Linked DNA regions of Homo sapiens. The protein of the gene in region 4 interacts with the protein of the main gene of each other region in a pairwise test. Each region holds a gene or a part of one and is shown on either strand. Other genes may lie near its edges. The genes, in order: EIF1AD, USP20, IPO13 and PBX4.

Region 1 (7,006 bases), on a different chromosome or scaffold from region 4:
GTGGCAAAGCCAAGATTTTAACCCAGAGCATCTGACCTTCAAACCCCATTCATAACCATGTTATACCACATGCTTAGGAGCTCTCAACAGATACCCTATGTAAGGAGGAAAGAAGGCTCTATTTTTCCCTCAAGGCACCAAAGCATGAACCCCTTATTTTCCATGTACCCCACCCCAAGGCTTGTTCCTCACCTGTTCCTGTTGTTGTGTTTCTCAGCCACTTCAGAGAAGGCCTCAGGCCTATGCCAAGAGATGAGCCAAAGTCAGAAAGGACAAATAAATTTCTCACAAAAGAGCTGCTTCCAGCTGTGTCTGCCTGGGATGCCATGACCTTCCCTCCCCTAATTCCCAAGCTAGGAAGGCAATGCCTCCAGAAGCCAGACAGCCAATGATCAAGGGGACCACCTACCAAAACCCCTCCTTCTGCAGAGAGCGCACGTGGTCCTTGCAGAGCACAAACGAGATTTCAGCCTTCACCTTTTCTCCCTCTTCAATGGGGTCAACAATGAGAAAGTCCCCTGTAGATAAGAAGAGAAAAGGCAAAGTCAGGCCTGCTTGCAATAAGGAAAGCCAAAGCCATAGGAAGGGGTTCTATCTCCTAGAGAGGGCTGCCTCTCTCACCTCTCTCTTTTTTCTTTTTTTTGAGACAGGGTCTTGCTCTGTTGCCCAGGCTGGCAAGCAATAGCATGATCATAGCTGACTGCAGCCTCCACCTCCCAGGCTCAAGTGATTCTCAGGCCTCAGCCTCCTGAGTAGCTGGGATCACAGGCACGTGCCCAACTAATTTTTTTCTTTTTGTAGAGACAAGGTCTCATTATGCTGCCCAGGCTGGTCTCAAGCGATCCTCCCATCTCAGCCTCTCAAAGTGCCAGGATTACAGGAGTAATCCTCTCACCTCTCTTGATCCAGATGTTCTTGCGGTATTTGGAGGGCATGCTCACCAGGAAGCGCTGCCCTTGGGCTGTCTCCACCTCATGCAGATTGTTCCCTGGGGTCCTGAGTACCTGGTTCAGGAGAGACCAAGAATCAGTCTCATCAGTCAGATCAAACACCCTCTCAGACACGCTGCACCCTACCCCCACCCCAGGGGCCCTCCAGGGCTGCAGGGGTGGGGAGCAGAACAGCTTGTGCCCCACGCCACTCACCCTGACAATCTGCTGCTGGTCGGAGGGCACTATGTGCTCCCCTAGCACCTCCTTCACCACATGCTTCCTCTTGGTGGCCTGAGACATGCTGAAGTCGTCCCACACTGGTTAGGAACGAAGAGACTGTCAACTCCTCCTCCTGAGTTCCTTGGATGGCAGGCTCAGAACCCAGGACTGTTCTGAAGATGGGGAGGGGCCTTTTACTGAGGGGTGACACGGTGTCTTGGTTAAGAACATGGGTTCTGAAGTCTAACTGCCTGGATTCAAATCCTACCTTGGTTTATTTCCTAACTATTCAACTTCTCTAGGTCCCAGAAAAATAACAGCTAACTCAGCACTGTTACAGTATGGTATGAGGCCACCACTTCTCCTGTTGGCCTTCTTAGTTTCTCTCCAACCTCCCCTTTTCCCTAGTTTATAAGACAGGAGAAAAGGGAGAAAGCAAAAAGTTGGAAAGAAACAGAAGTAAGATAAATAGCTAGACGACCTTGGCACCACCACCTGGCCCTGGTGGCTAAAATAATAATAATATTATTAACCCCTGACCAAAACTACTGGTGTTATCTGTAAATTCTAGACATTGTATGAGAAAGCACTGTAAAACTTTTTGTTCTGTTAGCTGATGTATGTAGCCCCCAGTCACGTTTCTCACGCTTACTTGATCTATTATGACTTTTTCACGTAGACCCCTTAGAGTTGTAAGCCCTTAAAAGGGCTAGGAATTTCTTTTTCGGGGAGCTCGGCTCTTAAGACACGAGTCTGCCGACGCTCCCGGCCGAATAAAAAAACCTCTTCCTTCTTTAATCTGGTGTCTGAGGAGTTCTGTCTGCGACTCGTCCTGCTACAACAGAATGGGACAATACAATGCATGTCATGTAAAAGTAACTCCGGCCGGGCGCGGTGGCTCACGCCTGTAATCCCAGCACTTTGGGAGGCCGAGGTGGGCGGATCACGATGTCAGGAGATCGAGACCATCCTGGCTAATACGGTGAAACCCTCTCTCTACAAAAATACAAAAAATTAGCCGGGCGTGATGACGAGCGCCTGTAGTCCCAGCTACCCGGGAGGCTGAGGCAGGAGAATGGCGTGAACCCGGGAGGCGGAGCTTGCAGTGAGCCGAGATCGCGCCACTGCACTCCAGCCTGGGCGACAGAGCAAGACTCCGTCTCAAAAAAAAAAAAAAAAAAAAAGTAACTCCTATAATCTTAAGTACTAGTGTAATATAAAACTATACGCATGCTCCAGAGAAGTCATCCTGGCAACCTCTCTGGAAGGAGTTTGAAATAAACCGTATCTTTCTCAACACGCTTGTACACCCCAAGTCTAGCATAGTCACACAACAGAGAAGTTCAGTCTGGCAACACACTACAGCCGGAGACAAACTAGGTGGCCACCGTGATGGTTCAAGCCAGGAACTAGTTAATTAAAGGTTGAGGTGAGCAGGCTTGTCTGCGACATTTGCATATTTCTGACTTGCGTACTTAGAAGACGAAGGCCAGTACCCTTAAGACTGATGGTTTCCGAAAGAAACACTGTCGTCTCTAGTTGCTGTCCTCCTTCCTCCTCCCTGTCTATCCCGGAGAAAAGACCCTCAGAGAAACACCCACACTTAGTCTCTGGCCCTCGGCTCCCAGGAACGCTGCCGGAGCAACACCGCCGTCTAGGCTGGACGCTGAGAGAGGATCGTCCACGACTCACTTCAAGGCTGAACCAAGAAAACACAGTAAAGGAACTTGCCGGCGGCCGCGACGGTAGCGTCAGTTAGAAATCAGGTCTCCAGTGTTCCCAGTTCCCACCAGTCCAACTGCGAGGAGTGCGACGTGAGTCTGAGTCTGATCCCTCCGAAAACCGTACTTCCGGCGCTGTCTCGGAGGCCTCCCGTCCCCTCCCTTGTCCGTCTTCTAACTCTTCCCCACGCCAGGTCCGTCAAGCCTAAGTCCTTGAGTTCCGGGTCCGGGCAGCAGAGAAAGGAAGTCCTCTCCCTGGAGGCCTATCTCCCTCAGAACTGCGCGAGAAGCGAGACCTTAGAAGGCAGGGCTTCCCGCGAAGGACCGGAAAGGAGCGCCTACTAAGGACGCCGTCGAGGTCCGGGGCGCCTCAACTCTATAGCTCTAACTGGCTAGAAGTGCCCAACGTGGAATGTTTCTTTTTTAAAGGCGGCTCTTGAAGCGACCCGGAAGCGGAAGTGGAAGAAAGTTCTAGTGGCTTGAGGTATCCGCAGGAGCGGCCGGGTGGCGGGAGGAACCGTTACGGGAACTGAAGTTGCGGGTGAGCGCCAGCCGCGGAGCAGGGCCCTGATTGGAGGCCAGAGGGGTTGCGGGGAGAAGGGGAGGAGAGGGGTCGCAGGCGCTGTGGCGGGCCCTGGGGGAGAGCTTGGCCGCGCTGCGGGGAGGGGGCGGGGTGCAGCGCGTGGGAGCCGGGCCGCGGGAAGGGGCGGGCCGCAGCGGCGCGCGGTGGGGGCGGAGCTGGGGCGCGGCGTGAACCCCGCGGGCGGGGAGCGGGTGTGCGCAGCGCTAGGTGTGCGCTTCGCCCTGTAGGTAGAGAGACCCTTTGGTTAGCTTTCCACGCCAAGTGGCCGTTCCAGGCAGGCAGTGTCGTCTTGGTTCAGCCAAGGTCACAGAGGGAGTGATAGCTTCCGCGCAGCCCTGGCTACGGACTCTGGGCATCTTTCCACTGCCCCGCTTGCGCCACCTGTTAGGCAGGATCGTTTTTCCTCTGGGGCAAGATCAAAATCCAGGTCCTGCAGGAAGAAACTCCTCTTAAAAATAGTAGGGAAGAGTCTCCCTGGAACTGTTTTCTCCTTTCAGGATGAGGGGGATCGAGCAAGCCACTGTAACCCCTGGCTTGGCTTCCTCTTACTATGAGATTGCTCGTGGGCCCTTAGAAGTTCCAGGTCTTCAGCCCTAATCTGCCTTTTTTTTGGGATTCCTAGATTAAGCCTGATCAAGATGACAACCTCCCAAAAGCACCGAGACTTCGTGGCAGAGCCCATGGGGGAGAAGCCAGTGGGGAGCCTGGCTGGGATTGGTGAAGTCCTGGGCAAGAAGCTGGAGGAAAGGGGTTTTGACAAGGTGTGGGGTGGCTGCGTGTACCTAGTGCAAGCGGGGGGTGGAAGGGAAGTGATTCCATCTGCTGGGGGATGGACAGTAAGGTATAATCTGAAGAGGCTGCCAGAGCCTGGGCACCTGGTGGAGAGGAGAGGGGGGCAAAACCCGCGCTGCTTCCTGGGCTTGTGTGCTCTGAATGGCACAGGAATGGCTGTCTTGCTCTTATCTCTCACTGAGCACTGAGCAGCACGCTCCTTCCTTTTCCCTGTTTTGCAGGCCTATGTTGTCCTTGGCCAGTTTCTGGTGCTAAAGAAAGATGAAGACCTCTTCCGGGAATGGCTGAAAGACACTTGTGGCGCCAACGCCAAGCAGTCCCGGGACTGCTTCGGATGCCTTCGAGAGTGGTGCGACGCCTTCTTGTGATGCTCTCTGGGAAGCTCTCAATCCCCAGCCCTCATCCAGAGTTTGCAGCCGAGTAGGGACTCCTCCCCTGTCCTCTACGAAGGAAAAGATTGCTATTGTCGTACTCACCTCCGACGTACTCCGGGGTCTTTTGGGAGTTTTCTCCCCTAACCATTTCAACTTTTTTTTGGATTCTCGCTCTTGCATGCCTCCCCCGTCCTTTTTCCCTTGCCAGTTCCCTGGTGACAGTTACCAGCTTTCCTGAATGGATTCCCGGCCCCATCCCTCACCCCCACCCTCACTTTCAATCCGTTTGATACCATTTGGCTCCTTTTTTGGCAGAACAGTCACTGTCCTTGTAAAGTTTTTTAGATCAATAAAGTCAGTGGCTTTCATGACTGGGCTTTGTGCACTGAAAAGCAAGTGGGCTGGGAGTTGCCTCTCCTTCAGGGACTGACCATGTTTCCCTCACTCCTTATCAGTAGAGACCGAAACTGGCAGCTTCCCTTCCACTCCCAGAGGGCAGCCACCCTAGCCATGTAGGCCTCAGGCAGGTGACTTTTGTCTCAATCCCCGAGTGATGTGGGAGAGGGTGTGGGTGGATCTTTTCCTGGGAGCCAGATGGACTGTGCTCCAGATGTCAGTTAAGTCAACAGCTGGGCTAGGCAGCACCTGGTGGAAAAGTCAGTGGGAGTCAGAGGTACCAGACAGGGTGGGCCGGATGTGGGTGAGAGTTCACCTGCCAGTCATCATCTGCTCTCCCGGCCTCTGTAAGGGTGGGCAGGGTGCTTGCCATCTTCCATGATCTCTTAGGGAGGAGAAGGAGCACAGGCATCACAGCTGGAAGGATGTGAGGGGAGTACACCTCAGTACATTTTAGTCCTGTTCTTTTTGTTTACTTTTTAACTTAATAGGGACAGGGCCCTGCTCTGTTGCCCATGCTGGCCTTAAGCGATCCTTAAGCCTCCCAAAGCGCTGTGACTATAGGTGTGAGCCACCATACCCGGCCAGCCCTATTATTTCTTGAACACTTAGTATGAACCAGGCTTGAAGCTAAAATCTTTGCAAACATTTTTTTCTTTCACAGTAATAAATATTTTCTCCTTTACAGGTGAGGAAATTTGAGGCTCAGAGAGGCTAATTTGCCCATGGACTTGCTCCTGGGAAGTAGCCAGACTGGAACTCAAACTAGCTTGGAAACCCAGGGACCCGGCCATGTGTTCCTTGGTCATGTGGCTTAGCCTCTCTGAGCCTCAGTTTCTCCACTTGGAAAATGAGGTGGTTGTAGGGAAAGGATATTTGCAGCAGTATAAACAACAAAGGACTATTTCCATAGCACATACAGAATTGCAATCAAGAAAAAAGCGGACTGGCTGGGCGCAATGGCTCACGTTTGTAATCCCAGCACTTTCAGAGGCCGAGGTGGGTGGATCACCTGAGGTCAGGAGTTCAAGACCAGCCTGGCCAACATGGTGAGACCCCATCTCTACCAAAAATACAAAAATTAGCCGGGTGTGGTGGTGCACGCCTATAATCCCAGCTACTCAGGAGACTAAGGCAGGAGAATCGAACTTGGGAGGCAGAGGTTGCAGTGAGCCGAGATCACGGCCATTGCACTCCAGCCAGGGTGACCAGAATGAAACTTTGTCTCAAAAAAAAAAAAAAACAACAGAAAAATGGGTAAAAGATCTAAGACGGCCACAGAAGAGGGTTCCCTCCCAGTAAATAAGCACAGGAAAGGTGCTCCATATTGCTAGTAATAAGACATCACATGCCATTAACACCCACCTGACTGGCAAACACTTTTAAGTTGGACAATACCAAGTATTGATGAGATAATGAAGCAACAGGAACTGATACCTAGCTGGTGGGAGTATAAATTGGTCTAAACAATTTGGGAAGACAGTTGGGTGTTATTTAGTAAAACTGACACGCCCTGTGACCAAGCAGTTCCACTCTCAGGACTGTGCCTTGAAGAAAGTCCCGAACACCTGCAGCAGGACCTAGATGAGTTTGCAGCTGCATTGTTGGGAGCAACGCTAGCGGCTGTCAATACTAGAGTAGATAAATAGGCACTCATGCCACCGGACACTGGACGGAGGTAAAAATGAACAAATGATAGTTGTGTACAACACGAATCTCAATAGCAAATGAAGACAAACAAATTCTTAGGAATTCCTACATAGATGGTAAAACTAGAAGGAAAACAAAGGAAATGATTATGGTAAATAGTAAAGGAAAAAGTCTACAGGGATTATCTTTGGGGGAGGGTGTGGAAGGGCTTAAGGGTAGGCTTGGCCTACCCTGACCTGTGTTTCTGACCTATGGGGTGGTGGTACAGGCATTGACCAAAAGTGTATGTTCTGCGCCCTTTTCAGTGTATTCGCTACATCTCAACAATAGAAAGATAAC
Region 2 (7,028 bases), on a different chromosome or scaffold from region 4:
ATGGGGCTGTGGGGACACGGGCACTCAGCAGTGGGGCCGGGCCATGTCCAGGGCCCTCCCACATCCTCCAGGAAGGTGCTTTCAGGGACCTGCTCTTTGGATGTTCAAAAGGACATGTGAGGGTCTCTGGAGAGTGAGGAGAGGACCCAGAGTGCCATGGAGGGACCAGCCGGGGCGACTTACAGACTAGCCCAGCAGATCACACGGCCCGCGTCTCGGCTTCGATCTTCTGCTCCCCGTGCAGGTTCTCTGGGCCCAGCGGCTGCGCCACACTCTGGCGGATGGCAATCTCGGGGCCACCTCCATACAGGCTGTTCAGGTAGGTCCAGGTCTCCTCCGAAATCTGCCCGTAGTCAGCTCCTGCAGGGCACGAGAGGCACCCCTAGGCTCACCTTTGCCTCCTCAAGGAAGCCACCGGCCTGGGCAGTGGGGGCTCCGCAGGGCCAGGCCCCGAAGCGGGAAGACGGCAACCAGGGCTTCTATGCAAAGCTGTCAGATGGAAATCAGGATTTCCCAGAGGAATGTCCATCCCGCTAAGGGCCCCGGATAACACATCTCTGGCTGTGTCCCTTGTTCCTGGGGGTGGGGCTGACATAAACAGCAGGGTGGGCAAGGCCAGCAGCAGGCAGAGGGGTGGGACCTGGAGGACACAAGCAGAGACCAAGCCCCTTGGGCCATCTCTCAGCCGCCTGGGTCTGGACTCAGGTGGACGTCTCAGCCTGACTCTAAGACAGGTGGTAAGGGGGCTCCTGGAAGGACGGGACTGGGCAGCAGCCTGGCAGCCAGGAAGGGCAGAGAGGAGCCTGGCTGACCCCAGGGGGAACTCACCCTGCTTCAGCTGGACATGGCCGCTTCCTTTGACCTGTGCAATCCTGCTGTTGTCAATGGGCCCGGGGGGCTCTGCAACAGACACAGCGGGCTCGGGTTCAGCCCCTGCCATGCCCTCCACCCTCCACAGCAGCAGAGCCATCCCAAGTGGGGCCGCCCCAGGCCTGGGGGTCAGCGTGAAGTCTCTAATGGATGAGGCGCCTGAGCCACCCAATGCTCCTCTGTGGCAGTCTGAGGACCCAGCAGAGGGAATTTCCAGGACACACGAGATGGTCTCAGACTCTGTGCTGGCCGCAGGAGCTGCGGTGGATGGCCCATGCCCTTATCTCTGCTGGCAGCTGCCGCTCACCACGCCCCTTCCCCTCTGCCCAGCTATCTCATTTAGCCTCGGCAACCACAGGACAAGACAGAGGTTTACAGAGACAGAGCCGAGGCCTGGGAAGGTGAAGTAACCACTCAGGTCATAGCTGGTAGAAGGCAAGGCCAGCGTCCAGGCCAGGGCGAGGGCTCCGGAGCTACATTCTCAACCACAGCCATGCTGAAGGCCTCAGCCACCACCAGAGAGGCCTCACGGTGGCCCTGGCACCTTCCCCGACTAGCGGGATGGCAATGAGGCCTCCCTTCCCAAGCACAGGTGGGTGCTCATGCTCCACACCAAGGGTCCCGTGAGCAGAACCGTGGGCTCTACCCACCCTGCCGGGCCCCGGAGCCACAGGTTAGATTATGCCCCGAGGGCGCCCCAGCCGAAATTTTTAATGCAGGTTTAATAGTTTAGAGCCTGTGGGCTTCCATGGCTTGGTTCTGCTGTTCTTCACTGGGGACTTGGGGGACCCTGGGAGCTTGTGATGGGGCCTGTCTCCACCTCTGTAAATCCAAGGAGTCAGATGACAAATCTGTCATTTCGGGCGACACACTCCCCTGAGGAAAGGGCCTTGCAGGAGGGCAGAGCAGCTTGCTGGGCATGGCAGGGAGTGGAGAAGGGCAGGGGGCGCAGAGCAGGAGCAGCTTCCTGCCTCTGGGTGGGGACAGTGATCCCCACTGGGGACTGGCAAAGCCCCATGCTCTCTGTTCACCCTGGATGGGTGGCACCTGGGGGCAGGCATGGGGCCTGCAGGAGCCCCTGTGTGCCAGCCCTCCCCTGCCAGCATCCCATCTCCCAGGAGGCCCCCAGGGCAGGTAAGTGCCAGGTCCCCCCTCAGCTCACCGTTGTCCTTCCCCTTGACGAACGCCTCCCACTCCCGGAACCACTGCATGCTGATGCAGTAGATGACGCCCGGCGACTCCTCGGCCTGGAAGGCCTTGTTCAACTGGCAGGCGGGCAGGGACGGGAGGAGACAGAGGGCAGGTCAGTCTCTATTTACCTTCAGCAAGGATTTCCCAAATGCCCCCGCCCCAGTCCCTCACCCAAGAGTCTTACAAAAACACCAGATACTCAAGGTGAAAAATCAAACCCCCAGACAAGCTCAAACAAAATGAACACACCCATCACTCAGAGAGGACGGTGGTAACATTTTGTGGGTCTCTTCAATAACTGTTTGACCCAACTGAGACCACAAGGGAGATTCTACTTTTTGAGAAGGAATCTCACTCTGTCACCCAGGCTGGAGTGCAGTGGCGCGATCTCGGCTTACTGCAACCTCTGCCTCCCAGGTTCAAGCGATTCTCCCACCTCAGCCTCTTGAGTAGCTGGGATTACAGGTGTGTGCCACCACCTGGCTACTTTTTGTGTTTTTAGTAGAGACGGGGTTTCGCCATGTTGGCCAGGCTGGTCTTGAACTCCTGACCTCAGGTGATCCGCCCACCTCGACCTCTCAAAAGTGCTGGGATAACAGGCATGAACCACTGCGCCCGGCCTGGGAGATGCTAATTTTCTCCGGTTGAATAGAATGTGCCTATCTGCTCAGAGAGGCAGCTCTCCTTCTGACAGGAGCATTTTCTTTTTCGAGATGGGGGGTGGTCTCACTCTGTGCCCAGGCGGGAGTGCAGCGGCGCAATCATGGCTCACTGCAGCCTTGACCTCCTGGGCTCAAGTGATCCTCCCACCTCAGCCTCCTGAGTAGGTTGGACCACAGGTGCATACCACTAGGCCCAGCCCTGACAGTCTCTTTTTCGTTTGTGTTCTGAGACAGGGTCTCACTCTATTGCCCAGGCTGCGGTGCAGTGGCATGATCACGGCTCACTGCAGCCTCAACCTCCCAGGCTTAGGTGATCCTCCCAACTCACTCAGCCCTCCAGGTAGCGGGGACTACAGGTACACATCACCATGCCTGGCTAATTTTTGTATTGTTTGTAGAGATGGGGTTTCGCCATGTTGGCCAAGTTGGTCTTGAACTCCTGGGCTCAAGTGATCCACCTGCCTCGGCCTCCCAAAGTGCTGGGATCACAGGCGTGAGCCACCATGCCCAGGCAGCAGAATCATTTCCTAATGGCCACAAAGCACGGGCGTCCCTCAGTGTCTCTCACCAGGCCCTCCCTGTGAGTGGAACACGTCCTAACCCTGTTAGAAGTAGCGTGGCAGGGAGGGAGTGCGCCAGGAGCCTCGCCTGCACTCAGCTCCCTCACAGAAGTCCCTCTTCTAAACACAGTCACACTTGAGTCCTGGTTTGCACCTTGGTTTTCACTTCCTGCTTTATCTTGGGCAGTCTGTAGAGCCCAGTGGTTCTCACCCAGGGCAGGGAGGGTACTCTGCACCCCAGGGGACCCTGGGCAATCTCTGGAGGTCATTTTGGTTGTCACTAGCACTAGTGGGTAGAGGCCAAGAATGCTGCTAAACATCCTACAATGCACAGGACGGCCCCACAATAAAGAATAATTCAGCCCAAAATAACACAGCCAAGGCTGAGAATGGGATCCATCTACTGGTTCTTTAAGCTCAACAGCACCCGGGCGATGAGGCTTCACTTACTCAAGCCAACCCTCCCACCAGGAAAAGCCCTCCTAGACACCTGGCCATCTAGTTCCCCGCAGAAGACTCCTTTCTTTTCTTTTTCTTTTTTTTTTTTTTTTGAGATGGAGTCTTACTCGGTTGCCCAGGCTGGAGCGCAGTGGCACAATCTCAGCTCACTGAAACCTCCGCCTCCCAGGTTCAAGCGATTATCCTGCCTCAGCCTCCCAAGTAGCTGGGATTACAGGCACCTGCCACCAAGCCCAGCTAATTTTTGTATTTTTAGTAGAGACGGGGTTTTGCCATGTTGGCCAGGCTGGTTTCAAACTCCTGACCTCAAGTGATCTGTTCGTCTCAGCCTCCCAAAGTGCTGGGATTACAGGTGTGAGCCACCATGCCCAGCCTCAAAAGACTGCTTTCAAACTTGCTCAGGGACTGCACAGGATTCTTCTGTCCCCAAGTCCCCAGCTGCCCCAGGCAGAGGCTGGCAGAGCCGCCCCCGCGCCGCCTCGCCGCACGCACCTTGATGAAGGTGTCGATCTCGATCCTCCTGCGCTTGGCCAGTGCCTCGATCTCCACCTGGCAGATGGAGCACACGTACAGGTGGTTCACGGCGGGGCCACCCCCGAATCTGTGCCCAGGGTGGGAGAGAGAGACACGGCCTGAGCGGGGTACCAGGGAGGGGAGAGTGATCACTGCCTTCCACTTCCCCCTCAAGCCATCAGTGCCCCCTCAGCGCTGTCGCAGGCCTGCATGCACCTCTGTGTGAGCACCACAGAGCCTGCAACGGAGCAGCGCGCCCACAGCCCAAGGGAGGTCCTGCTTCAAGGCTGAAGAGCAGATGGCCAACACACTCAGCTGTGCTTCAGCAGATGGCCAACACACTCAGCTGTGCTTCAGCCAGTTTCCTGTCCCTTGCCGCTGGAAGGATCCAAGCGGATTCCCACAAACGACATGTGTCATTCTCCATGAGACAAGTGAAGGCGGCTCTGTGCTGCCCACGTGGAGGCCAGAGTGTGGTGTGGGGTCCTGGTGGCATTCCTTCCCTGCCCTCCCCTCTTTTCCTGCCCAGCTGGGCCCTGGACAGGACGGAGACAAGTTGGCCTCCCAGGCTCTCACCTGTTGTACAGGTGCTCCCAGACGTTCTGGGGCAGGATGACCACCAGGTCGTCGATGTAGTGGTATTTGTGGGGCGGGATGCCTGGGAAGAAGGTACAGGGAGCGAAGCTGTGGCTCGGCCCAGCTGCCCACCCTGCTCTCCCACCACAGGGGGCGCCTCACCTCCGTGGGAGCAGAGGAAGGTCTGGTTGGTGATGGGGCCTGGCTCCGCGAAGGTGTTGAACTTGTTGAGCCACTCGCGGGACACGTAGAACCGCAGCAGGCTGGGCTCCCGCATGGCGGCCAGGGACACCACCTGCTGTCGCTCCCGCATGGCCTCCTCGCTGCTCTTCCTGTGGGGTGAGGAGGGGGCGAGAAGCTGTGCCTGACGGCTGCCACCTTCAGACACATGCAGAGCCCCCATCCCAGTGCACCTCGGGCTACCGGCCCTGTCCACCACCTCCTGGGTCCTTCACGGGTCCTGGACATGTGAGCAGCCCCCTGTGCCGCCAGCCAGGGCCCTGGAGAAGGCTCCAAGCTGCCTTCCTGGGTTCCCCACAGCAGCCAGAGGGCTGTTTCTTAACAATCCAAGTCCTTACTTCCCTGGCTTAATCCAGGCGCTGTCCCCTACACACACCCAGAAGGCCCATGGGTCCCAGGGGACGGGGATGGTGAGGTTCCTCCACCAGGCCTGGCCCAGCGCCCACCTGTAGAAGAGTACGTAGCCCTCGGCGTTCTGCACCACCGTCTCGTGGACTTCTGTGACGTACTGGTCATCAAACTCGTACCACTGCCCATTGATCACGTTCTGGCAGTAGGCGATGTAGTGCCCACCTGCGGCGGCAGAGCAGACGGGTCACAGGGATCCTAGCGGATGGGGACGGCAGGGGAGGGGACATGACTCACTGCCTGCCGTGCCGTGGTGGCAGATGACCGAGAGGAGGTCGTAGGTGGTGATCTGGGATGTGCACTCCTTGGCAAGGAAGGGGCGCAGGTCGAGCCCCTCGAGGGGGAAGGAGACGTGGCTGTTGATCTTGAATGAGTACATCACCTCGTGCCGAAAGCGCTTTAGGTGAATGCACAGGATCTGCGGGGACAGAGAGAGCGCCGGTCATCTAGGAAGAAATGATGCGGGCCCTCGCAGCCTTGCCCACGGGCCCAGGACAGCTGATGGGATCATGCAAGCTGACTCCATTGGAACAAATCCAAGAGTTCCACGTGGGGGCCAGACTGGGCTCGCTCTAAGTCACACAGATCACTCCCAGCTCCACTGCTGAGAACTGGACCCCAAGAGCTGCAATGAGCCATCAAGTTTACCAGTTCTGTCGGCACTACCTTTGAGAAGCCACAAAGCCTCCCCGAGCCACCACAGCCCCAACCTGGGCCCCCTCTGCCAGGGCCCTCTCCTCTTTGCTCCAGCCACACGTGCCTTCCTTGGTGCGGACAAGCCTGCTCCTGCACTGGGGTTTTGTCTGTTCCTTCTGTGCCTTCCATCCACGACGCTGACACCAGCCTACACCCTCCAGGCCCCACTCAGACGTTACTCCTCAGAAAGACCCCTGGCAACAGCCCCAGCTGGACCAGCTCTCCTCCCGCCACTCTGCAGCTGGCAGGAGCCATAGCTGTCTCACTGGGGGTGGTAACCCAGTGTCCCACACACCTGCCTCCCATTGGGCCCTCATACAACATGTTAGACAACATGTGCTGAGGCTACCGAGAGAGGGCACCAAGTCACAGTTGGAAAAATGTGCCCCCTGCCAACCCTTCCCAGAGGTTTCTCAGCCAAAGCTATGGAGTCTCCACGGCCCCTGCAGCACAGAAGTGCCCGAGCAGTGGAGCAGGCTCAGCCCCTGCCTGGTGTGTGCTGGTGTGCATCCCGAGATAGCTGAGGAGGAGGCTGCCGAGGCCACTGGCTCACCTCGGGCAACCGCAGGACTTTGCAGTACTTCACTCCGTTCCGCAGCCTGGGGAGGAAGCACGAGCCAGCATCAGTGTCCGGCATCAGGGCCAGGGGCCAGGGAAGCAGCCCTCCACCCGGCTCCCTTCTGGGAAGGCAGGATTATAGGGGGCTCTCTGCAGGAACCCAAGGGGAATATGTAGGGCACAGAAACGGCAGTTAGGGAGAAGGCGGGGGAAGGCTCACTTACTTCTTACACCGCTCACAGCTGTACATGTTGTCACCTAGGGCAGTAAAACAAAGGGTCAGAGGTTAGCAAGG
Region 3 (7,028 bases), on a different chromosome or scaffold from region 4:
TTCGGAACTGCTCCTTCTCGTCTGAGGACCAGAATCCATATTCCTCATCAGAAGGGAACTGGGCCTTGTGCAGAAGCACATCCACCAGCTGGAAGTAGACTGGCCGGTACACCTGCTGGTATACAGCCTGCTTCTCTGCCTCAAAGGATAGAATATCATCCTGAGAGAGCCAGGGAAGAGAATTAGCCACCTCACCAGCAGTCATAGAAGCCCATGATCCACCTTCTTCCACCACAGCCCAGTCCTACTGGAGGTCACACAGACACACCTGCAGTGTGTACCAGAAGGTGAGGGTTAGGGAGCTGGTGGTCTCATTGACAGGATAGTGGCCAGGGATGCCTGTGCAGAACATAATCATGTTGACGAGTGCCAGGAAACTCTGCCAGTGCTCTACTTGGTCCAGCAAGGCCCTGGGGAGAGAGTCAGGTCATTCTACCTTTCCAGGGACTTCCAGAACCCCATTTCTTAGAGGGCCCTACTATCCCACCCCAAGCTGCTCCACCCTTTACCGGGAGTGGTTCTCGCCCAGGGCCACAGCGATGCGACAGATGCCATGGGAGGTCTCCATGTCCCCATTCTGCACTGCCTGCCGCAGTTGTTCCTGCAGACCCAGCACCAGCGGGATGAGTTTCAGGAGTGTGTTCACGTACCTAGAGGCATGAGGTGAGAAAATCCATCAGAGCTCTCTGCTCAACCCCACACTGGCTTTAAGAGAAAGGCATAATCTCCTTGTCTTCCATCAAAGCTCCCCTTCCCTTATCAAATCCTAAGCAAAAAAAGGGTCAGGGTCTACATGGCAGATTTGATGTTCCCAATGTTGGGAAGAACCTTAGATCAGGGACCCCCAGAAGAACTCTGAGAAGGACGTATGAGAAGGTCAGCATTATGGGTTGAATTGTGTTCTCCAGTTGGACTGAGAGCTGATTCCGGAATGGGTTAAGATTTTTTTTTTTTTTTTTTTTTTGAGATGGGGTTTTGCTGTGTTACCCAGGCTGGTCTCGAACTCCTGAGCTCAAGAGACTCAGCCTCCTGCTCAGCCTCCAGAGTAGCTGGGATTACAGGTGGAGCCACCACATCCAGCTAGGTTACAACTTTTGGGGAGATTGAGATGAAGTGAATATATTTTGCATGTGGGGATAACATGAAGTTTGGGGCACCAGAGGGCAGACTGTCATGGGTCAAATTAAGTCCCCACAAAAAGATACATTTTTTGATAAATCTTAATCCCCAGTACCTCAAAATGTGATCTTATTTGGAAATAAGATAATTGCAGATGAGGTTATACTGGAGTAGGATGGACCTGAACTCCAATATGACTGGTGTCCTTATAAGAAGATATCTATGTGAAGACAGAGACATACAGGGAGAATGCCACGTGAGGATGAAAGTAGAGAGTGGAGTGATCCAGCTGGAAGCCAGGGAACACTGAAGACCGCCAGCAAACCACAGAGCTAGGAAGAGGCAAGGACGGAGTCTCCTACAGGTTTCAGAGGGAGCACAGCCTTGCCAACACCTTGATTTCAGACTTCTATCCTTCACAATTGTGAGACAGTTAATTTCTGTTTGGCTTTAAAGCCACCTAGTTTGTGGTACTATGTTATGGTAGCCCTAGGAAACTAATACAGTCTGTCAGGGGTGATTGAACAAGAGTGGGATACAGAAGAGTAAACACAGGCTCATAAGCCCTGATTTAAAAAAAAAAAAAAGACTTTGGAAGGCAGCAACAGCTCATGAGAGCATCAATCCCTGCCATCCGCTCCACCCTCTACCACCAAATCCCAACTCTTGAGGAGTGTGGTGGCAGCAGGGAGGAAGAGAAGTAGACAATGAACTCAGAGAGAGCTAAGAGGCAAAACAGACAGGACTTGATGACTGACTGGATATGAGGAAGGAGAAGAATAAAGACACCTCTCAGGTCACTGGCTAAACAACTAAGTAGACGGTGGAGCTATTTACTGAGACCTGTGGGGTGAGTAGCGGGGAACAGTAACACCTTTAATGGGAGGTGGAAGGTGATAAGCTCAGTCTTAGACAAGTTGATTCAGAGACACCTGATAGGTTATGCAGGCAGAAGCATCTAGAAAGAGTTGGATATAAAAGCCTGAAGCCCAGCATAGAGGTTAGAGCAAAAGCCATAGATTTGAGAGTCATCAGCTAACAGCTGGTAATTGAAGTTATGGGAATAGATGAGAATTGCCCAAGGAGAAAGTGTTGAATGAGAAAAAAATAAGAGGGTCCAGATCACAGCCCTGAAACACAATGATCTCTAAAGGAGAAGGACAGACAGCCCAGTATACAAAGGGGACTGAGAGAAGCCTGGCTCAGCCCACTGGATCCCTCTCCAGCACCTTGGTCTGTGGAGATGAGACTAAGCAGAGGAAGCCACACTCTAATAGCGGGGATCAGATGCTTGGGACCCCTCTGTTGTCAATCATAGTGTCACCATAGCAATCTATGTTAGGGAGTTGGGGACTGAGGATCCCAGAGGGAGTTCTATCTGGACTTGCCCCAAGCAGGTTGCTAGGCAGTAGCCTCATATCCTTGGTGGGAGGATGAGAAGGACAAAAAGAGGCAACCAGCCTAGGGACATCGGCCTCCTTCTCCACATCCCCATTCTGGTAGGAAAAGTCACCCATGCCAGGATATCCCCAGCCCAGAGACAGCCCCAGGGGGTGCTGCCTGGAGACAGCCGGGATAGCTTCAGTCTCCTGACCCTGACACGGGCTGCACCACCAGACAATGGGCATTTTCAGGCCAGACTCTGGCACAAAGAGAAGGGGCAGGGCCAAGGCTATGGCCCACAAGCTCCTCAGCAGCTGAGATGGGTGCAGGAGGTAGCGCTCTACTCCCATAGCTCCCCACTGTATTCTAAGACTCCTTCCTCCACCTGCCAAAGTTCATGCAGATGGCAGGGTACTCGGCAAATGTTCTTCATTTGTCTCATCTGAGCCTCAAAATAGGACAAATCAAGGATAATACAGCCTCAAAGAGCTCAGAGTATCATATCACTCAAGGTCATACAACAACTTAGAAGCAGAATCCAGGTTGAAACTGCCCCTTAAACTGCTACAGGTCTGCTTTTCTTTCAGGGCCCAACCAGAATTTCCCCAAAGGATTTATGTACGTCTCAGCCCATATCTCCAGTCCTAACTGATGGGAGCCCCCAAGAGCCTGCCTAATTCACTTTCCCTCCATCCCCAACTCCCAAGGACAAGCTTTTCCAGCATTAAAAACATAGTTCAGGAAAAAAAAATACATTTCAAAGGAGAGAGCCAGGAAGCAGCAGCAGCTGTGGAGGGGCAGGAAAAGGGTGACTTGAGTGCAAGCTCAGCCAAGGGGAGGGCCAATGTCAGGACACCTGGGGAAGGCGTGCCTGGATGACCCAGGAGTCAAAGTCACTGAAGGTGACTTTCACAAGCCAAAGCTGGGAAATTAGACTGGGGAGAGCAAGGGCCAGGCTCGGATTCTGGGCTGGATGCAGCTCACCCATGGGAAGAAGTTCTTGCATAAATTTCCTACCACCTGAGCACCTGTGTCTGCGACCTGTGAGTGGACAGAAGAACAAGTCTGAGGTCCCAGAGGTTTCTAGGTTTGGGGGAAGGAGACAGGGAGGATGTCTTTATGACCACAGCTGAGGCTGGGTTCAAGAGGCCTGGCTCCAATCGGTCAGTTCAAGTAGCCGAGGCAGGGCTGCTGGGACTCCTCTGCTGCTGCTCACACGGAGCTCAGCCCAGACCTGCAATTAGAGCTTTGCTTCAGGAGCAGAGCTGAGAAAATGGGGAGAGTTGCTAAGCAACCAAGGGGCTGCAGCCAATGGGCACCAAGGAGGCTGTGGGTTACCTCACTGGCTCCTTGCTCGCTCATTCGTTCAGAGGAGAAGGGGCATCAATTACCTGCCAAAGCCCTTGAGACTGGCTGGGCGGGTAAACTTGGGTGTATCCAAGGACACCTCACATCACCCACACACTTGCCCTGATCTGTTTCCCTTAGTCACCAACTGTCAGAGCCCACCCAGCACTTGAGCTTCAGGCTGCCAAGAGATCTGGGATTAGGTATCCACCTTAAGCTGGAAAGCCTGGGAAGCCAGGGGATAAGTATCATAATAACTCCCAACACAATAATGAAACCAAATACTGGCAACTGCCGTTTACAGAGTATATAGGAACCATGCTAAAAGCTTCACATTCTCTTATTTAATCCTCATACCGAAACAATCTTTTATTTTTTAAAATCAACCCAATATTTTATTTAAAGTTTCAAAAGGCAGTGATTAAGCACATTATCTATGTGTGTGTGTGTATCATATACATATAAATATATGTATGTATACACACACATATATATATAGGAAACCAACTCCTTTTCAAATTTAGCCACTGAACAACTAGGCCCACTTTCTATTGCATGATTCCAGTTCTACTTCTTATGACCAGTACTAAAAGTAAACAGCCTTAATCCATTTAATAGTAACTATGTTTCTCTTTAAAAAAATGAACAGTTGGCCAGGCATGGTGGCTCATACCTGTAATCCCAGCACTTTGGGAGGCGGAGGCAGATGGATCACCTGAGGTTAGGAGTTCAAGACCAGCCTGACCAACATGGCAAAACCCCGTTTCTACTAAAAATACAAAAATTAGCTGGGCGTGGTGATGCACGCCTGTAATCCCAGCTATTCTGGAGGCTGAGGCAAGAGAATCGCTTGAACCCGGGAGGCGGAGGTTGCAGTGAGCCGAGATTGTGCCACTGCACACCAGCCTGGGTGACAGAGTGAGACTCTGTCTCAAAATAAATAAATAAACAATTACCATTAACTGATCACATAAAGTATAAAGGTAGAACATATACACACAGTTCCCATTTTAAAACATGTAACGTATCAATAACCCAAAGGTACAAATGCATGCTACTGACCATCCCAACCCTAGCAGAGACCACAAAAGAACTCCCATTACTCAAGGAGTCAAAATATTCTCTACCGAACACCAGGGGCAGGACTTGTGCACATTATCCTGTTTAAACCTTTTCAACTCTGTGGGGTTGATATGATCATCCCCATTTTATTGATGAGGAAACGGAGCCTTAGGAATGGCTGATCCAAGATTTCAGATCTAATAAGTGAACCATCTGGGATTCAAACTTAGATGTGACTAATGCCAAGGCTTGAGTCATCAGCCACTCTTCCATGAAGTCTCTTTCAATGGTTTTCCCTTCCAATTCTGCCAAAGGTCCCAAAGCCCCATCTCTGAAATGTCAGCATCAGGACCTCCAGTCTCACTTCTTCTAATCCAGCTCATACCAAAAGTCTCAGTAGGCCATTTTCTCTGCTTATAATCCTTTAATATCTTTATATCGTCTTCAGGATGAAGATCAAAATCTTAAACTTGGCCAAGGTCCTGCATGATCTGGGCCCAGGTCTCCTATACCTCTGGCCCTTAAATCTTGCTGTCTAATCACATCTAATGATTTACAGATCACCAGACCCTCTGGGCTTTCACCCTTCCCTTGCTTGGGCTGGAATGTCCTCCCCATCCATCACTTCCATCTGGCTAACTCTTACACAGCTGGGTTGTCACTTCCTCTGCGAATCCTTTCACAGCCCTCAGACTCAGTGAAAGCCTCCTCTGGGTTCTTCAAGGCCCCTGCGTTCTCCATCAGAGGATTCATCATGTTGATTGTACTTGCCACTCATGTGTCCACTAGACTGTGAGCTCCTGAGACTGAAGCTAAAGCATTTGTCTCTGTGCTCCCAGAGCTCAGCACAGGGCCCAAAACAGGACATGCTCAATGAACATTTGCCAAACACTTCACTACACTCACTTCTTTAGGGCCCTTGAATATATCATGATGCTGCCCACAAGTCTTTGCACATGCTGTGGTTCCTAAAGCCTAGAACAATCCACCTTCCTCCCCCAATCCCTTCCAGCCCCACCCCTCCCAACTCAGGCAACTCCTACTTTCCTCCATTCACAAAATATCAAATGCTACCATGTGCCGAGCACAATGCGACAAAGTAAAATGACAGAGTCCCTGTCCTCACAGAGGTGAGAGAAATCATGTTATGGGCTAAGAAGGAAAAATACTGGGAGCTCTGAGGTAATATAAGAGAGAAGATCAAACTTAGCCTTAAGAATCCATGGAGGACTTCCCTATGGAAATGAAGTTTAAGCTGAGGCAAGGTGTCAAGTATATGTAATGAGCCAGAGGCTGAAAGGAACATGGGACATTCAAGGAATTAAAGAAACTGTGTGAGCGTGTAGAGAGCAAGGAGAGTAGCATGAGATGAGGCCAGTGATGCCATACTGTGCAGCACCATTATGAGTCACATTAAGGATTCTGAGCTTTAACCTAAGAGCATTGAGAAGCCACTGAAAGCTTCTGATCAGAAAGATTAGATCCCCATTTTCAAAAGATCACTGTGGCTGCTGGGACAATGAAGGGTACAAGAGTGAGGACAAGCTCTACAGTAATCTGGGGAGAGAGATGATGACAGCTTGGACTAAGGTGGTAGCAATGGAAATGGAAAAAAATAGATTTGCAATATGGTCAGGAGGGGAACAGCCAGGACTTGGTGACTAGTTGAGAGAAGGAAAAGAGAGTCAAATATTTTAATTGAATAACTGATAATTAGTTGTTTAATGTCTGCCTCCCTGTCTGAACCATGAGGACAGGGACCATGTCTTCTTTGGTTCCTTGCTGTATCTCCAGCATAGGACCAGGTATCAGTACACATTCAATTAATGTTTATTGAACAGATGGATGGATGGATGTGTGGCTGGCCAAAGAGGTTGTCTTCTGGGTGAGTGGGTACTAGCTCACCTCTGGGCATCAGGCTGTGAGATGGCATTCACAATGGCCTCCACACTGCTGTCGAAGAGCTCCGAGTCCTGCAGAGCAGCAAAGGCAGCCTGAATGAGCGCCTCACAGTCCTGCAGCGGCACCTCCAGCTGCACCCAGCTGGAGAAACACTTGAGCACCTTCTGACGCACACAGCTGGGTGAGCTGGGCTGCTGTAGCAGCTGCTCCAGCAG
Region 4 (5,503 bases):
TAACATTGTGAAACCCCATCTCTACCAAAAATACAAAAAATTAGCTGGGCATAGCGGCAGGCACCTGTAATCCCAGCTACTTGGGAGGCTAAGGCGGAAGAATCGCTTGAACCTGGGAGGCAGAGGTTGTGGTGAGCCGAGATCACACCACTGCACTCCAGCATGGGTGACAGAGCGAGAATCTGTCCCCCAAAAAAAAAAAAAATCTGAAAGCAGAATTTTTTTGTAGAGACGAGGTCTCACTATGTTGCCCAGACGGGTCTCAAACTCCTAGGCTCAAGCAATCCTCCTACCTCGACCTCTCAATGTGCTGGGATTACAGGCATGAGCCACTGCTCCCAGCCAGGACATTTTAAAATCAGAACAGAATGATACGGTCCCACAGAAGACAGTGTTGGGAGTCTGTGCCTGAGCGGCGCAGGTGAGTGGCAAAATCACAGCACACATGACACTGCAGCTGTGACCGGTGTCAACTACCACCCAAAACAAATCTGGCAAACAGACATCGGAATTAAAATAAGTCAAAAATTTTAATGGGAAAATCTGTGCCCAGTCCTAGAACAGACAATTCAATTCATAGCGTTACCATAAAATTACTGTCAAAAAAACGAACTGAAGTGGGAGAATGAGTGGCGTTTCAGGCCATCTCGAGTCGCAGCAGACACATGAGCCGGCGCCACGGGCCTGGCTGAGGAGCAGGGGCTCATGGGCACCACCACCCATCTGGGTTTTCTGAGGTCGTCGGCGGCACGTTCAGTAACAAAGCAACGGCTGGCGATACATGGCAGCTCACGCAGCGCTCTTTCCTGCTTATCCCCCAAACTTAATTAGATGTACTGGAGTTGATGCTGCCAGGGTCTCCAGCAGGTGAGGCAGTTGCAGGTTGGGGGGTGGCCCCCTGCCAGCTACCCTGGGCCTGAAACGACAGAGACTGAGCATCAGAGTGGGTGGCCGTGAGACTGGTGACTACCCAGCCCACGTGCTGCAGGCGGAGCCTCCAGGGGTCCCTGGGAAGGCTTGGAAAAGATCCACAGATGACCTCCAGCTCAGTGGAGGAGGGAAGGGATGGAGGGGTCGGTCCTGGGTCACAGCTGGCCTTGCCACCTGACATGGGACATGGACGAGCTTCCCCGGCAGGAAAACTGGCCTCTAGTGGCTTCCCTGGGGCTTAGGCAAAGGACTGACTGGCATCGGGTACAACAAGGGCTCCTGCCCGGCGAGGGGCAGGGAGGCAAGGTCAGGCCTGGAGCCCATGATGACGCCCGGAGCGTCATGGTGAGACTCGGTGGGAAAAAGGGGCTCTGAAACCTGGCCCAACACTGGCCTGGCTGGGCAGCAAGGAGGGTGGGAGGCAACCACTTGTCATAAGGGGTGGGGGCTCTGTCTGCAGTGCAGAGACGGCATCACGTCCAACGGCGCTAAGACGTTTGTCCACAGGACCCACCCCCACTATGGTGGGCACGGTACAGGTTAAGGAAGTGGCTGGGACTGCTCTGCCCGTGAGTGTGGGAGCAGCTCAGACGGGTGCACCACCTGGGGGCACTCTGCTCTGAACTGGGGTGGACACACAGCTGCTGGCGCGTAGTCAGGTCCCAGGGGTGCAAAGGGCAAGGTGAGGCCCCTCACGTGTGTCCCTGGCTGGGGGCTGCATGGTGATGGGGGGCAGCTGCCACAGCAGGACAGTGTGGGACGTGTGCTTCCCAGGACCAGGTGGGACCCCACAGACAGCACAGGAGGCATCCGTTCTCTGAACCCCTGGGAGAGAGTGGTGAGTTGGGAGGGGCACCCGGCTCTGCAGTGCCCTGGCACACACCACACACACAGCCTCGTGCCTGTGCTGGGCACATGACACCTGGGCCTCCTCAGTGTCTTCAAGACGGTCCCCACTCGCTGCCTTCCCAGCCAAGCTGCGGCACTGAGGTCTGAGCCCGAGGGAAGGCCCCATCTCTCCTCCGGCCTCCTCTGCTGGCTGCCTGCCCCTCCCTCTCGAGGGAAGGACACCATGTCCTCCCACAGTCCTCTAGGAGGTGCCCTTCCCCTCCACAGCCAAAGCCCTCATCTTGGGGTTCATCCCCACTGACTGTTCCCAGCGGCTGCCGTGGTGACAAGTGGAGGTGGGGGAGGGCACAGTCATTACAGAGTGGGGCCCTGCAGAGCTGTGCCCCAGAGGTGGCCGCGCAGCATGGCCTGTGTGGCTGCTGGGACCTCTGGGGAAGCTGCCCCAAGGCCGAGGGGTGGCTGACAAGACGACCCTTTCTGAGAACCTACCACCCACCTGGGCGCTGTGGGACAGTGCCTGAGACTCACCTGGGACTGCAGGCAGCCTCCCCCAGGAGGAGGCTGGAGAGAGGCCAGAGTCCGCAGGGTGAGGAAGGCGTCCCCAGCGCTGGGCAGCGGGAAGGGTCCAGAGGAGCCTGGAAGAGATGGGAGCCGGGGTGGGCAGAGTCGTGGCGCCTCCTCAGGTGGAACCCACCCAGCCCCTCAGCCGGCAGGAGGCCTCGAATGTGGCTCCTGCCCCTCCTCAGCATCCGGCCTCTGCTCCTCAGCCCCCACCCAGGCAGGCCAGCGGGCCCTCCCCACCACACTACTCATGTCCCCTCATGGCTTGTCTTTTTTTTTTCTTTTTAAGACAGTCTCGCTCTGTCACCCAGGCTTGAGTGCAGTGGCACGATCTTGGCTCACTGCAAGCTCTGCCTCCCAGGTTCACACCATTCTCCTGCCTCAGCCTCCCAAGTAGCTGGGACTACAGGCGCCCACCACCACGCCCAGATAATTTGTTTTTTCTTTCTTTTTTTTTATTATTATTATACTTTAAGTTTTAGGGTACATGTGCACAATGTGCAGGTTTGTTACGTATGTATACATGTGCCATGCTGGTGTGCTGCACCCACTAACTCGTCATCTAGCATTAGGTATATCTCCCAATGCTATCCCTCCCCCCTCCCCCCACCCCACAACAGTCCCCAGAGTGTGATATTCCCCTTCCTGTGTCCATGTGTTCTCATTGTTCAATTCCCACCTATGAGTGAGAATATGCGGTGTTTGGTTTTTTGTTCTTGCGATAGTTTACTGAGAATGATGATTTCCAGTTTCATCCATGTCCCTACAAAGGACATGAACTCATCATTTTTTATGGCTGCATAGTATTCCATGGTGTATATGTGCCACATTTTCTTAATCCAGTCTATCATTGTTGGACATTTGGGTTGGTTCCAAGTCTTTGCTATTGTGAATTGTATTTTTAGTGGAGATGGGGTTTCACTGTGTTAGCCAGGATGGTCTCTATCTCCTGACCTCGTGATCCGCCCGCCTCGGCCTGGGATTACAGGTGTGAGGCACTGCACCCAGCCCATGCCGGGCTAATTTTTTTTGTATTTTCAGTAGAGACAGGGTTTCACCATGTTGGCCAGGCTGGTCTCAAACTCCTGACCTCAGGTGATCCACTCATCTTGGCCTCCCAAAATGCTGGGATTACAGGTGTGAGCCACCGCACCCAGACCTTTCATGTCTTTTCTTATTAGTATCGCCATTCTGTCCCCAAAGCACAGGTATCTGTTGGTTGGGATCATGGCCAAGAGGAACAGAACTCTCACAGTTGAAACAGAAGAAAGAGTTACACAGAGTTGACCACTGGGGGAAGGGAGATGTGGTCCCACTGTGGCCTCCCCAGATGCAGCTCAGTGGCCGTCCACATGGGTACAGATGACTGTCCCTGGGCCAGCCTCACTCACCGGAGCTAGGTGTTGACAGGCAGCTGGCGTGGTTCCCTGGGACCCCAACTTCCGTGGTATCCACAGCCGTTTTACCCGTGTAAATGGTAGCCTCTTCTTGAAACTTCCCCATGTTCTTTTTATACCGGATTCTTTTGTTGCCAAACCAGTTAGAGACCTGCGGACACACAGGAGTCACTGGAGGAGCTGACCCAGCGACTTCTGAGACACGACGCAGTCTGTGGGTTCCCTGGGGTGCCCGTTGCTCCCACTGCCTTAGAAGACAACACTGCACCCTGGGGCTATGAAGAGTCTGGGACTGAGAAGGTGGCGCCCTCTGAACCACGGACCCAGGGAGATGTCCACATGGGTTGAGGACACCCTGGAGCTGGCGTGTCTTAGAACTCTGCTGCCTAAAACTGGATGTTGCTGGAACCTGAACCTGGGAAGGGGCTGGAAGGAAAACAAGACTGTCTGAGGTGGGCCGGGAGGGACAGCGCCTCTGGCTGCCATGCAGCAGGCGGCAGGTTACGTTCCGTGTTCTCTTCAGGAAAAGTGAGAGCCAGGGAGACCTGGGGACCCAGTAACTGCGATCGAATCCCAAACTTATCAAATGAAAACAAGGTGAACTCTGAAGGGGTAGTTGGAATGTACCAGGTGCTAGGATAAGCACTTCTCATATATTCATATATTTTTCTTAATTTTAATTAAAAAAAGGTTTTTTGGCCGGGCGTGGTGGCTCACGCCTGTAATCTCAGCACTTTGGGAGGCTGAGGTGGGGGGATCATCTGAGGTCAGGAGTTCGAGACCAGCCTGGACAACATGGAGAAACCCCATCTCTACTAATAATACAAATATTAGCTGGACACAGTGGCACATGCCTGTAATCCCAGCTACTCGGGAGGCTGAGGCAGGAGAATCACTTGAACCTGGGAGGCAGAGGTTGCAGTGAGCCAAGATCGCACTGCAATTTAGCCTGGGCAACAGAGTGAGACCCTGTCTCAGAAAAAAAAATATATTTTTTCTTTTTTTTTAGAGATAGGGTCTCGCTCTGTTGCCCAGGCTGGTCTCAAACCCCTGGGCTTGAGAGTTCCTCCCGCCCTGGCCTCCCAAAATGCTGGGATTCCAGGCCCAGCCTCATATATCATTCTGCCTCATCCTCATGAGGACCTGGGAGGCAGCTGTTATCGTCCCTGCTGTAAGAAAGCAGAGGCAGGAGAAAAAGGAGCTAGTCCATGGCCAAGGTGGAATCAGCCCAGCTCTGACTGCAAACTGGCACTGGAGTCCCCCAGGGAGGGGCTTGTCACCTTTGGTGGCACTGCTGATGCTTGGGCTCCATCTGCTCTGTGGGGGCTGTCCTGTACACTGCAGGGTGCTGAGCGGTATCCTTGGCACCCACTGGGTGCCAGGAGCACTTCCCTTCTCTAGTCGTGACAACAAAAATGTCCCCTGGGCAGATTCACATGGGTGAGCACCCCAGGGCCAGCGCCTTCCTACAGGCATGGAGACGTCCATCCAGGGCCACATTTCAGTATCCCAAAGCAAGTAAAATAAACGTATAGTATAATAACACACAGAAATGAAACAGCTGAGGGATGGAAGAGGATTGTGGATGACCTTTGCTACTTCAAACATTTTTTTCTCACTCTGTCACCCAGGCTGGAGTGCAGCGGTGCGATCTCAGCTCACTGCAACCTCTGCCTCCCAGATTCAAGTGATTCTCTTGCCTCAGCCTCACCAGTAGCTGGGACTACAGGCACGTGCTACCAAGCCTGGCTAATTTTTGTACTTTT

The links.
Region 1: the proteins of PBX4 (region 4) and EIF1AD interact in binary tests that used the Homo sapiens proteins (3 or more experiments, as listed by UniProt).
Region 2: the proteins of PBX4 (region 4) and USP20 interact in binary tests that used the Homo sapiens proteins (3 or more experiments, as listed by UniProt).
Region 3: the proteins of PBX4 (region 4) and IPO13 interact in binary tests that used the Homo sapiens proteins (3 or more experiments, as listed by UniProt).

Annotation. Positions count from the first base shown.
Region 1 is NC_000011.10:65,999,158-66,006,163, forward strand, and holds the start of EIF1AD (probable RNA-binding protein EIF1AD), read right to left. Parts: upstream 3,001-7,006; 5' UTR 2,753-3,000; exon of another isoform or gene 2,648-2,752; intron 1,349-2,647; 5' UTR 1,233-1,348; coding exon 1,146-1,232; intron 1,005-1,145; coding exon 896-1,004; intron 519-895; coding exon 410-518; intron 241-409; coding exon 193-240; intron 1-192. Other genes in the region: BANF1 (barrier-to-autointegration factor), read left to right, coding at 4,094-4,216, 4,469-4,615.
Region 2 is NC_000009.12:129,873,445-129,880,472, reverse strand, and holds part of USP20 (ubiquitin carboxyl-terminal hydrolase 20), read right to left. Parts: intron 6,992-7,028; coding exon 6,958-6,991; intron 6,775-6,957; coding exon 6,729-6,774; intron 5,898-6,728; coding exon 5,717-5,897; intron 5,645-5,716; coding exon 5,518-5,644; intron 5,164-5,517; coding exon 4,994-5,163; intron 4,914-4,993; coding exon 4,832-4,913; intron 4,344-4,831; coding exon 4,235-4,343; intron 2,136-4,234; coding exon 2,033-2,135; intron 901-2,032; coding exon 829-900; intron 361-828; coding exon 200-360; 3' UTR 184-199; exon of another isoform or gene 7-183; 3' UTR 1-6.
Region 3 is NC_000001.11:43,949,942-43,956,969, reverse strand, and holds part of IPO13 (importin-13), read right to left. Parts: coding exon 6,817-7,028; intron 3,508-6,816; exon of another isoform or gene 3,487-3,507; intron 651-3,486; coding exon 510-650; intron 411-509; coding exon 269-410; intron 161-268; coding exon 1-160. UniProt on the Homo sapiens protein: Functions in nuclear protein import as nuclear transport receptor. Serves as receptor for nuclear localization signals (NLS) in cargo substrates.
Region 4 is NC_000019.10:19,561,202-19,566,704, forward strand, and holds the end of PBX4 (pre-B-cell leukemia transcription factor 4), read right to left. Parts: intron 3,889-5,503; coding exon 3,732-3,888; intron 2,415-3,731; coding exon 2,308-2,414; intron 917-2,307; coding exon 824-916; 3' UTR 512-823; downstream 1-511.